Linked DNA regions of Homo sapiens: all the other regions are reported to be linked to region 3. Evidence: microRNA targets listed by miRTarBase, many of them from high-throughput screens and not tested one by one. Region 3 holds a microRNA gene; each other region holds the end of a gene's coding sequence.
Evidence for each region. The annotated mature microRNA hsa-miR-6780a-5p reads UUGGGAGGGAAGACAGCUGGAGA and lies in region 3 at 1,374-1,396, opposite strand. An mRNA with a match to its seed (bases 2 to 7 or 8) in the 3' UTR can be bound and repressed. Matches are read on the target gene's strand: a 7mer-m8 pairs with bases 2 to 8, a 7mer-A1 pairs with bases 2 to 7 and ends in A, and an 8mer does both.

Region 1 (3,133 bases), not on the chromosome of region 3:
CTGGTTTGGGCTGAGAAAAGGGATTTGGATCTTTTGAGCTGGTCTCTCCAAAGGAGTCAAAGAACCAGGGAGAAATAGTCTAAGTGTAGAACAAGGTGAGCAAGATGGGAGAGGGTGGCCGTCTACTTCGGCGGGTTGGGGCAAACACCAGAGGGAGAAAGACATTAACGGCCTCTCAAAGCAGTGGTCCTCCTCTGGGCTGTGAACTCTTTGAAGCTATGCAAGGTAAGGATGGGTCCACAGTTTTCATCATTCTCAAGTCTATGACCCAAATATGTTGCAAGACCTGGGAATAAATCTGGACAAAGAGGCAAATGGGAAAATTGGACTGTCTTTTGGGGGTGAGGTAGAAGAGTTCCTCAGTTAGTTGCCCTGTGTTAAGCCCGTACCATCTTGCCAGACACTTGTCACTCATTTCACCATCACCACAACCCAAGAACTTTATAATATTTCTATTTTATGGGTGAGAAGCTTAAGGCTCATGAAAGTAGGTTTCTTGCCTATATCACATAATGAGGAAGTGACGGGCTAAGAGGACGAGCCCAAGACTGTAAGACTCAGCCTTTTCCCCGTATCCTGCCTCACAATGTAGTTTATCTTTTAGGTTTTGTTTTGAAGTCTCGCTCTGTCACCCAGGCTGGAGTGCAGTGGCACAATCTTGGCTCACTGCAACCTCCACCTCCCAGGTTCAAGCGTTTCTGCCTCAGCCTCCTGAGTAGCTGGGATTATAGGCGTGTGCCACCACACTCAGCTAATTTTTATATTTTTAGTAGAGACAGGGTTTCACCATGTTGGCCAGGCTGGTCTCAAACTCCTGACCTCAAGTGATCCATCCACTTCAGCCTCCCAAAGTGCTGGGATTACAGGTGTGAGCCACTGTATCCGGCCATGTTTTGAAGTATCTTAACTTTTGATTCTTAAAAGGCAATAGCAGTAATTAGGATAATAAAGATACAGTCTGGCCAGGCACGGTGGCTCACACCTGTAATCCCAGCACTTTGGGAGGTCGAGGCAGGTGGATCACGAGGTCAAGAGATCAAGACCATCCTGGCCAACATGGTGAAACTCCGTCTCTACTAAAAAAAAAAATAAAAATACAAAAATTAGCTGGGTGTGTTGGTATGCGCCTGTAGTCCCAGCTATTTGGGAGGCTGAGGCAGGAGAATCACTTGAGCCCGGGAAGCGGAGGTTGCAGTAAGCTGAGATTGCGCCACTAAACTCCAGCCTGGTGACAGAGCAAGACTCCCATCTCAAAAAAAAAAAAAAAAAAACACAGTCTGACCCAGAATCAAAGTTGCTGCTAGCAGGAAGAGTCCTTAGAAGAGTTTCTAAAAACGGATCTCAGATCCCATAGCATATACTGTACTGACTGAGCTATGACAACTCATCATATTCCACATACCTGCTACCACAGGTGAGATCCATGTCCCGAAGCTTAGAGAGAAGCCTCTCTAAGGAACTAGAGGCATAAAACTGCCAACCACACCTACCCCCACCATCTCTCGGTGGGCGAAGGGAAAATGGTATCTTTAATACCAAAAAGATAATTTAAAGGCTTTAGATCAGGGGTAAACTTTATTCATAAAGGGCCAGAGTAAATCTTTGAGGCTTTATGAACCACATATGGTTGAAAACATTGTTGGCCTCCTGGCACAGAAACAGAAAACTGCTGTGGAGGCTAAGAGATCACCTCATCCGTTTTATAGCTGATATCCCCTCAGGCTAAGGCCTGCCTTAGGAGGAAAGGCAGTAGAGCAAGCTTGTCCAACCGCAGTCCTGGGCAGCAAGCAGCCCAGGATGGCTTTGAATCCGACCCAACAAAAATTTGTAAACTTTCTAAAACGCTGAGGGTTTTTTTTGCCATTTTTTAAAGCTTATCAGCTATTGTAATGTTAGCGTATTTTATGTGTGGCCCAGGGAAGCTAAAAGATTGGACACCCCTGCAATAGAGCATAGTTTTAAGAGCATCACTTTAGTGCAAGACTCCACCATTCACTGCTGTATAATTTCTGGCAAATTACTTAATCTCTCTGTGCCCATTTCCTCATCTGCCAAATGAGGATACGTTAAAGGTGCTTGTGAGGTTTAACAGTTCATTTGTGTAGCTAAGAAGAGTATTTGAGGCCCAGAGCACCATGGCTTACGCCTGTAATCCCAGCACTTTGGGAGGCTGAGGCGCACAGATCATCTGAGGTCAGGAGTTCCAGACCAGCCTGGCCAACATGGTGAAACCTGTCTCTACTAAAAATACAAAAAATTAGCCAGGTGTGGTGTCCTGCACCTGTAATCCCAGCTACTCGGAGGCTGAGACAGGAGAATCGTTTGAACCCAGGAGGCACAGATGGCAGTGAGCCGAGATCACACCACTGCACTCCAGCCTGGGTGAGAGAGCAAGACTCCATCTCAAAAAATAAAAAATAAAAGCGTCCCTGACACATACTAATTACAATATAGTTAGTAGACTTTATTGTTGCTATGGGAGCAGAGGGCCAAGAACCAGCACTCGCCATAGCCCATGTCACCCACAAATGGTTAGATGCAGGAGTACCTGCAGCTACTTTCTTGTAGATAATGGAACAAAGGGGGAGCCCTGCTCTTTCACCAAAACCCGAGACCAGGCAAAACTTCAAGACTCATGCTGAGGAGGGGCGCTTCATGAACTTGAATATTAGTGGTCACACAGGATTCTACTCACAAAAATGTAATATCACAACAGTGCAGACCATAGGAAGTTTATTGTGTCTTTGAGACACTACAATGCAGACTCCTCTTCCAGAGAAAGGTCTTTCAGAGACAGGGAACCGTCATCCGGATGCGTTGCTCATTTGTCATTTTCATAGGCAGCTGGATTCTTCCTCTTGGATCTCTCGAACTCTTCAGTCCCCCATGTGTAGATAAGATAAAACACTACAAACTCTTTAAAAATTAAGAGAGTAAACAGAGAGCACACATATAAGACATATAGAAGAAAAAAAAAGGTCTCAGTCCTCTTGTCTTCTTTAAAGCATACACTTCAGTAGTTCTTAGCATATCCAAGGCCATGCAACTATCATCACTATCTGCTGCACGTTTAACACAAAGCATTTCACCACTGGTAAGAACTAAATAAAGGTGACCTCAGAGGAACATGCTG
Region 2 (3,148 bases), not on the chromosome of region 3:
AAAAACAGCAGTACTGATCATGTTTGTATAGAGCTTAATGTAGCCTGCTGAAACTTTGAAGATTAATTTGAGTCTTTCTCTACACAGAGTGAAAAGAAGATAAAGACAACAGTACTAACAGCTGCACTTCTATTGTCGGGAATTCCTGCCGAAGTGATAAATCGATCAATGGATACCTATAGCAAAATGGGCGAAGTCTTCACAGATCTCTGTGTCTACTTTTTCACTTTTATCTTTTGTCATGAACTGCTTGATTATTGGGGCTCTGAAGTACCATGAAGCCTGTAGAACTGAGAAGGAGAAGCTTACAAAAAAAAAAAAATCCTCTTCTATATTGCAGTGTCTCTAAAGGAGGCAAATTGGTTTACACCTTCATGTAATTCTTTTACTTTAGGGGTTGTAAAGCTACTTTATTAGATATAGAATGGCAGATTCTCTGATTTAAAAGGGCTGAGTTTGTATTATTACTGATATGAAGAATAGAGTACCAATGTCATTAATTGATTTTTCTTGTTAATCAGAATTCCTATTCTGTACCTTTCCTCTAACTTCTCAGATTTGTAATTCTTCTTTTGGGAGCTGAGCTAGTGCTTTTAGGAGAACAGATAAATGTGGTCTCAGCCAGCCCTAGAGACTGCTTCTTGTGTTTGTGTCATTCTGTCCTGAGAAATGAAGTCATCTGAAAAATAAAATGAAAGAAACTGAATTGTCTAATGTTAACTCTGCACATTGTAACTTTTCTTGTTGAGTTAGTATCTTAATTTTTACTCCAGCACAAGTATTTAATCAAAGAAAAGATTCATACATGTGAAATTGGAAGGTATTTATAAAATTTTTATTGCTGTATACCAAACTCAGAATTGGAACTTTTTACATTTGAGTTTCACTTTTTAGAAGTATGTTTTAAGCAAGCAAAAACAAAATGGGATGTGAAGAATTGAGGCATGCAACCCAATAGCATAAATGTCCTTTTTCCCCCCAAATATGGTCTAGATGAGTTATTATAAACATTGTTTTTATTTTTTTGAGACAGAGTTTCGCTCTTGTTGCCCAGGCTAGAGTGCAATGGCGCCATCTCGGCTCACCGCAACCTCCACCTTCCTGGTTCAAGGGATTCTCCTGCCTCAGCCTCCCAAGTAGCTGGGATTACAGGCATGCACCACCACGCCCAGCTAATTTTTATATTCTTTAGTAAAGACAGGGTTTCTCCATGTTGGTCAGGCTGGTCTCGAACTTCTGACCTCAGGTGATCTGCCCACCTCGGCCTCCCAAAGTGCTGGGATTACAGGCGTGAGCCACTGCACCTGGCCTTATAAATATCCTTTTAACTAACTCAGTAACTGCCATATTTTGTTGGGTTGTCTTCTTAAAAGAATATAAGACTAAAGTGTTAATGTCACTTGGTGTTACATTTCCTTACAGATTTTTGTATAGTCTAATTTGGTTAATCCTTGTGACATTAAAAACACATACACTTTTTAAAAAATTACTCTTTAAGTCTTGATTTCTGTCATTTCATTTTGAACCAGGGTAATGAAGAATAATTTAAGTCTATTCTTCTGATTTGGGTGAAAGATTATAAGCACACATTTTTCCTGATTCCATAATGAATCTAGTATCTAAAGGGTTGTAAATCATCCTTAAAGTTGTCACTTCCTTAATCGCTGAGAAGATACTAGTGGTCTTCAATTGCACATTGCACATGTTTACTCTTTTGGTGCTTTTTTTTTTTTCCAAACAGTGTTTACCACTGTTGTCCAGGCTGGAGTGTAGTGGTAGCACAATCATGGCTCACTGGAGCCTTGATTGACCTCCTGGGCTCAAGCAATCCTCCTGTCTCAGCCTCCCAAGTAACTGGGACCATTAATGCCTGGCTAATTTTTTGATTTTTTGTAGAGACAGGATCTTACCATGTTACCCAGGCTGGTCTCAAACTGGGCTCAAGCAGTCCTCCTGCCTTGGCCTCCCAAAATGCTAGGATTACAGGTATGAGCCATTGTGCCTGGCCTACTTTTCTTTCTTAAAAAAAAAAAATCATTTAGCCAGCTGACACATGCAAAATTTTAGTAATTGTAGATCATTATCAAATTTATATTTTGAAGACAGTTATAAGATATCTGTATCTATTGGTGCCATTTTTTGTCTTTAACTGATAGGCATCTCCCTGATCATTTGCTTGATTTGTTGAATAATATCAAGTAGAAATGAAAGTTTTTTTTGTTTGTTTGTGTTGTTTTTTTTTTTTCTGAGACAGAGTTTCGTTCTTGTTGCCCAGGCTGGAGTGCAATGGCACAATCTCGGCTCACTGTAGCCTCTGCCTCTGGGGTTCAAGCAATTCTCCTGCCTCAGCCTCCCGAGTAGCTGAGTTTATAGGCATGCACTACCACGCCCAGCTAATTTTGTATTTTTAGTAGAGACGGGGTTTCTCCATGTTGGTCAGGCTGGTCTGGAACTCCAAAGCTCAGGTGATCCACCTGCCTCGGCCTCCCAAAGTGCTGGGATTACAGGTGTAAGCCACTGCGCCCGGCCTGTTTTGTTGTGTTTTGTTTGACAGTTTCACTCTGTTGCCCAGGCTGGAGTGCAGTGGCATGATGTACAACCTCTGCCTCTCAGGTTCAAGCAGTGCTCACGCCTCAGCCTCCTGAGTAGTGAGTAGCTGGGATTACAGGCATTGCCACCATGCCTGGCTAATTTTTGTATTTTTAGTAGAGATGGCGGTTTCACCATGTTGGCCAGGCAGGTCTCAAACTCCTGACCTCAAGTGATCTGCCTGTCTCAGCCTCCCAATTTGCTGAGATTAAAAGTGTGAGGCCGGGCGTGGTGGCTCACGCCTGTAATTCCAGCACTTTGGGAAGCCGAGGCGGGCAGATCATGAGGTCAGGAGATCGAGACCATCCTGGCTAACACGGTGAAACCCCGTCTCTACTAAAAATACAAAAAATTAGCCAGGCATGGTGGCAGGCACCTGTAGTCCCAGCTACTCGGGAGGCTGAGGCAGGAGAATGGCATGAACCTGGGAGGCGGAGCTTGCAGTGAGCCAAGATCGTGCCACTGCACTCCAGCCTGGGCGACAGAGCAAGTCTCTGTCTCAAAAAAAAAAAAAAGTGTGAGCCACTGCAGCCGACCTGAAAGTTTCTTTTTTTTGAGA
Region 3 (3,148 bases):
CCCCAACAATCCTCTCCCTCCCACTGAGGTGGAGAGTACCCCAGAGAATATGAAATCAGTGTGTTTCACTGGTAAATTGTCACCATCAAAACAAGTATCATTTTGAGAACAGAATGCATCCGTTCTATGCCATCCTTCTCCACCCACTGCCCAACCCAGCGCAACCACTTCTCTGCTGCGGCTAAGATCACTATCTGCTATGGGTTAGGAGGTATTTCCTCCAGCAAAACCGCCTGGGCACCAAGTTCTGCAAGCTGTGGGGACTGCCATCAAACTGCTCAGCTTTGAGTTGGGAAGGGCATGGTGGGATAAGAAGTAAAAGATAAGTACCCGGATGTCTCTGCTGACATCCAGGCCCCTGTCTTCTACCTGATATTAAAACTCCAGCTATGAAATGAAAATAGACATACACAGAATCACAAACAAAAAATATCTGAATAAAAAATTTTTTAAAACAGTATTCAGAAAAGGGAAACTGGGGCTGTAACTTAAAAAAAAAAAAAAGAGTCCCACATTTCTTTTCTTTTTGAGACAGAGTCTTGCTCTGTTGCCCAGGCTGGAGTGCAGTGGCACAATCTTGGCTCACTGGCAGCCTCTGCCCTCTGGGTTCAAGCAGTTCTTGTGCCTCAGCCTCCCAAGTAGCTGGGACTACAAGCATGTACCACCATGTCTGGCTAATTTTTGTATTCTTAGTAGAGACGGGGTTCACCATGTTGGCCAGGCTGGTCTTGAGTCCTGACCTTAAGTGATCTGCCCGACTTGGCCTTCCAAGTGCTGGGATTATAGGCGTGAGCCACCACACCTGGCCTAATTTTTTTATTTTTAGTAGAGATGAGGTTTCGCCAAGTTGGCCACGCTGGTCTTGAACTCCTGACCTCAAGTGATCCGCCTACCCAAAGTGCTGGGATTACAGGCGTGAGTGACTGCGCCTGCTGCCCCCCACATTTCTTAATTCTCCCCTAGAAGACAAAGTTGGGAAAGTATCTGATTTCTGTGTAATTGCTGCTTTTAGAATCATGAACCTAAACGTTTTCCAGAAACGACTCTCCCAGATCTCATGCACTTATTTCATTTGTAGAATCCCTAAAACACAGCAAAGGGGATATCAGAAGGCCATAAGCAGTAAAGGGCACAGGAATGGGGCAAGCCTAGGGCACACTGGAGCCAACTGTTTTGGTAGACTATACAGAAAACGTAGCACACTTACAGTCTGGGTTGCACTGGCAGAACTTCTCACAGAAATTCTGAGTCATGATGCAGGGGCAGGTGCTGTCACAGGGGCGGTCTGGGTGGTCGCAGGGTTGGTAGTTGTACACTTGTGTGGAAGAGTTATCTAGGAAAGAAAACAGAGGAGGATGCTGCTGTGACCATACTCTCCAGCTGTCTTCCCTCCCAAGTGTCCAGCTGCCCTGATTCAGAGGAGGCTGGTCCTAACAATCTCCTTGGACACACATTTAGCACCTGAAGTGAGAAGACAGGGATGACCGTTGTTCATAAGCTGCAGTGGGGTGATCTGCTTTGTGGGGAGGGTGTGGAGATGGTCTGGGACAACAGGGAAGCTATTCTAAACATTAAATGAGGTCTGGAACCTAGCAAATGGCACACTAGAAAAGTCACATACTGGCCAGGCACAGTGGCTCACGCCTGTAATCCCAGCACTTTGCGAGGCCGAGGCAGGTGGATCATTTGAGGTCAGGAGTTCGAGACCAGCCTGGCCAACATGGTGAAACCCCGTCTCTACTAAAAATACAAAAATTAGCCAGGCATGGTGGTACATGCCTGTAATCCCAGCTACTTGGGAAGCTGAGGCAGGAGAATTGCTTGAACCCGGGAGGCGGAGGTTGCAGTGAGCCAAGATTGTGCCACTGCACTCCAGCCTGGGTGACAGAGCGAGGCTCCATCTCAAAAAAAAGAAAAATCACAGACCACAAGGCCCTTAATGTTACCTCCTAAGAGGTCTTCTCAGTTGCAGTGAGAGGCTCAGCTGTTCTCAGTTGCTGCAGAGAATTCTGCAATCTGCGGAAGTGGCACAGGGTCAACAAGTGCAGCTGGAGGTGGGGTAGGGTGATGACCACAGAGTGAGGCCTCCAGCTGAACTGCTGAAGAATGCCCTGGTAGAACTTACCTTTCTTCAGCTGAATCTTCCTGCAGTGTGCAGCCCACAATCTGAAAAAGACAGGAAGGACAGGTCTCAGTCACGGCCCTAGGGAGCTCTGCAAATGCAGGTAAATGACAACGTGACTTGCTCTGAGGGACTGTGTTTGATGACTGGGGAGTATCTTCCCAAACCCCTCAACAGGACGACTTTGGTACACAGAAGCTAGAGTCCATCCTAAATCCAGCTGGCCTGTGCTACAAGAGTTAAACTTAAACACAACCCCTCCCAAACAAGCAAATAACATAAAAGAACACAACACAGAAATAAAAGAAAGCCCAAGCCTATTGGTCTATTATAAAGCTATTGTTTCTCTCCAAATCTCTCCCTTTGTCTTTGTGGAGGTGGAGATATGGGGGAGTTTCAAGATGGGGAGGTGGGAAGGCCTTTCAGGAATCTTCTCTGAAAGAACTGAAAGGGAGGAGCCACAGGGATTTCCTTCTGTATCTAGAAGTGGTGTCAGCTCCTTCCTCTGATAGGTGATAGTCACTAGGGAACAGGGCCAGGGTGCAGAATTTTTTTAAAAACTTCCAACCTAAGTAAAGGCTATCATGTAACTCAGAAAAACAACACAAACCAAACAAATAAATAAACTCTGATCAGAGTTGAGAAATGGGTAAGGTGGTAACAAAACCAACAAGGAGAAATGGCTTCAGGGTGGAGCCATGAGGCCAGCTCATGTCCTATTGGCCAGAAGCTTAAATAGAAAAACAGACAGTTATGGTCCACAGCACTGGGGGACAAGAAGAGGGCTGATCTAAGGCACAGACCCTCAGGGAGCACTCAGGAGGCTGGCTCTCAGTCATGTGATGCCAAGCTGATGGGCTCACACAGCCTGTGCGGTTGCTAAAGAGGGAGGCAGATGGGAACTCCAAGGGGAGGTCAGAGCACAGGGAACAGCCTGGCTGTAAAACAAAACACTTTGTCCAACCCTTCTTGCCTGTGCTTTCTTTTCTTCTTCTGTGAGGGGTTCATGAGCTCATCTGTTGGCAG
Region 4 (3,148 bases), not on the chromosome of region 3:
CTTAGGAGTTTTTAAAATATTATTAAAATATACCTATTTGAAAATTCCTTTGTTGAACACATTATTTGTTGAACAAATAATGTGATAGGCATATTTACATTCCATTTTGACAACATTATAGAGTTTTTAAATTTGTAATACTTTTCTTCTTAGAAGGTTTCTTAGGAAGTAAAGCAATGGAAAATACATCTCATTGTTAAATTATGGTGCTTTGAACAATGTTGTGTTCTTTGCTTTCATTCTCAGAAAACATCCAGTACAGACCTTTCTGATATCCCTGCTCTCCCTGCAAATCCTATTCCTGTTATCAAGAATTCAATAAAACTGAGATTGAATCGGTAAAAACAACCTCAGGGGTCCATAAACAATATCTGCCAACTCAACCTGTTGTCTTCAAATGCTAAAAAAGGAGAATGGAGGGTACAAGACTAGACATGACTGAAATGGATTTGGGTTTTTTGGTGACCTCCCTTACTGGGCTAATCAGCACTTGATCGGAAGTCCAGGTTAGTATGTGAAGCCAGGAGTACTATTATTATTGTGTTAGCAACAGTTGCATTAACTATTTCAAAAATTACTGCCTTTAAAAAAAACAACCTCAAGCTATATTTGTATTCATAATTGACATCTGGATTGGGTTTATGTTTGATGCATTGTTTGGAAAATTTGCAATACAAACTGGCATAAGAATTACTTATTCTGATGATGCACTTTTATGTATTTTTCATTAGAAAGTAGAACTAATTTTAGATTTTCAGCTTGATGGATTTTCAGTTTTTCCTGAAGAATTTTCTTTACCATTAGTCTTCAAATTGGATACTGTTGTGCAGTGGTGTACTGTTATACTTCAGAGAAAGGGTAAGAGTACATCTAGTTCAGTTCCTATGAGGTAGCTGTAACCCTTAAAAATGAAACGTCAACTCTAGGGTACATTTGACATTGAAAGAATAGTTAGGAAATAACTTGGTTTTGATAGGGTCATGATTAAGAAATGATATATTGGTTTTATTTATGGAATTGTTTTATAGTGCATACAAATCAGCGATCAGCCAGCAAATATTTTTCTTTGAGCTTGTGAAAGCTCTGTGTTCTTTTGCCTTCAATCTGTTGTCTTCAAAACAAACAAACAAAAAAAGCTTCTTGCGCCTTTCCCTCCCCTGTTTTCTTCCTTTTTCTTTTTGCTTGTATGCACAAGGTAGGACTTACTTCGTAAGAAACAAAATGCCAGTATTTTCTTAAGCCATGATGTGAAACCAATGACCCTGTGACCACATGGCACAGAACACTAAATTTTGGTCCCATGGCTGAAACTTGAGGGTGACTAAAAGTAATGCCTGTGAAACATGATATCTATCTGGGATGGCCATTTGATCTCTAAAAGGAATTTTGTACACTCCACAGAACTCCTATCTATAGTAAAATTGATTTTCAGTTTTAAATGTGGGCAAAAAGGCATTTTCTCCAAGATTTTAAAACTAATTCTTATTTTTAAATGGTTTACCAAAATTTGTCAGTACATTTTACGTGTAGAAGCATTTTAAAAATCATTTCTAGCAAGCACTTGACATCTAGTCAGCTCTCTACTCCTTTATTTTGTTTTATCAAAAGATTAAGAGCTCCTTTCTTTGAATAAAATAATTTCTCATAATTAAGCAGTAGAAGATCTATCTTCACAAAGTATGAGGGATGCCAGATGTTGATAAACTTACTCTTTCTGAATCTGGACAAAGTCGACTTAACAGATTTTTCTGATGAGCATGTTTTATGAATCCTCCATTGTGCTCCATTCTATCACATGTGCATTTTTCATGTTAAACTGCAATTACTTAATCTCTTCCCCTATCCTTCTAAATTAATTTTCTGAAGTTGGAGTGTAGTCTTTTCCCCCTTAGGCTATGCATTAATCGAAGCTTTCTTTTCACCATGACTTTATAATGTCTAGTAAACAATATTTCTACTTCCCACATCTTTGCTTTACACAGTCACCTTGCCCTTCCTTCCACCACCGAAGAAAAAAGATGGTCATACTAACAGGTGAAATGTACAAGGTGTCTGTGTGTTTTGTGTAGCTTCAGAGTTAGATTGAAATTACCAGGCACAGATTTAGTCTTGTCATTTTGTTTACACATTGGGGAAAACAATTCAGTTTATTAAACGTTTCATGTAACTGCACCCAAGTTTTGCCAAGCTGGAAACTTGGACCTTTTCTGTGTAGTGACTTTTTAATTATAGTTTTCATAACCTGGAGATCAGACTGTTGCTTTCGCATGATGTATGTAGTGTCTCATGACTGGAGTTTGCTTTGTTTTATAGTATCTGTACTCCTTGTATTTTTCAAGAGCTATTTTGTAAACAGATGATGTATTTCTCCATTGAAAACACAATAAAAAAAAAACAGCACAATCTCACAGTTGCCTGATTTCTTTTGACTACTACTTTTTTCCAGTAATCATAAGTTTATAGTATGATTCTAAGTGAGGATTTGCAAAAGAATTTGGTTACATTAGAAAAGATTTGTTTCTGGTTAACTTCAGCCATTGGCAGCAGCCTTGTATTTATAGCTCAGATAATAATTAGGTGTTTGTTTTTCATATAATTGATCTTTAGGGAGGAAAACATTAATATAGTTACTATTAATTCAATTTTAGCTCTTCCGTCCTCTAAAGTGTTCTGTGTCTGTAGACACCATACGTTATCTGTATATTTATTCTATGCCTGTGGACAGTGTACTGTCCTTTTCAAAGCATTTAGCACTTTAATGTCAGCAGGTGGCACTGTTGTTTTTCAGTGAATTTAGAATTACAGACCACAACCAACAGGATTCTATGTTTCTTATTTTACTAAATGCAAATCAGATATTGCTTTTCTTAACCCCCCAGATGCTCAGCATTGATACTTAACTCATGGTGCAGGAGCGAGCTGCTCTGTGTATTTTGTGATGGTCAGCTCTTGGGTATGGTTATCTTGTGTTTTGGGTGGAGGGATGGACTCTTTGTGTCAAAGCCATTATTCTGAGGGACATGCAGTTGTTCATATATCATTTCTAAAATTCTAATGTAACCTTCCCTATATATGAAAATGGGAATGTGGCTGCATTGTGGGATAACTTTTTAGTAAAAGCAAAATTTAACTTCTGAGACTGTTCAGT

Region 1: miRTarBase lists UQCRQ as a target of hsa-miR-6780a-5p. Seed matches in the 3' UTR shown: 8mer at 2,163-2,170.
Region 2: the mRNA of CAMLG is a reported target of hsa-miR-6780a-5p. Seed matches in the 3' UTR shown: 8mer at 1,129-1,136 and 8mer at 1,265-1,272.
Region 4: the mRNA of PAPOLA is a reported target of hsa-miR-6780a-5p. The part of its 3' UTR that is shown has no 7-base or 8-base seed match.

What each region holds. Positions count from the first base shown.
Region 1 is chr5:132,867,271-132,870,403 of GRCh38, reverse strand. It overlaps UQCRQ (ubiquinol-cytochrome c reductase complex III subunit VII), which reads right to left. Exons shown (of 3, transcript NM_014402.5): 3 at 1,557-2,916. The coding sequence ends at 2,822. Among named protein-coding and RNA genes, the nearest start is that of UQCRQ, 2.2 kb to the right of the region's middle.
Region 2 is chr5:134,750,672-134,753,819 of GRCh38, forward strand. CAMLG (calcium modulating ligand) reads left to right here. Exons shown (of 4, transcript NM_001745.4): 4 at 88-1,486. The coding sequence ends at 279. Among named protein-coding and RNA genes, the nearest start is that of DDX46, 6.5 kb to the right of the region's middle.
Region 3 is chr17:42,706,751-42,709,898 of GRCh38, forward strand. MIR6780A (microRNA 6780a) reads right to left here and starts at 1,401; the gene lies at 1,334-1,401. EZH1 (enhancer of zeste 1 polycomb repressive complex 2 subunit) reads right to left here. Exons shown (of 21, transcript NM_001991.5): 13 at 3,096-3,148; 14 at 2,126-2,166; 15 at 1,208-1,333.
Region 4 is chr14:96,564,709-96,567,856 of GRCh38, forward strand. It overlaps PAPOLA (poly(A) polymerase alpha), which reads left to right. Exons shown (of 22, transcript NM_032632.5): 22 at 247-2,408. The coding sequence ends at 342. Among named protein-coding and RNA genes, the nearest start is that of PAPOLA, 64 kb to the left of the region's middle.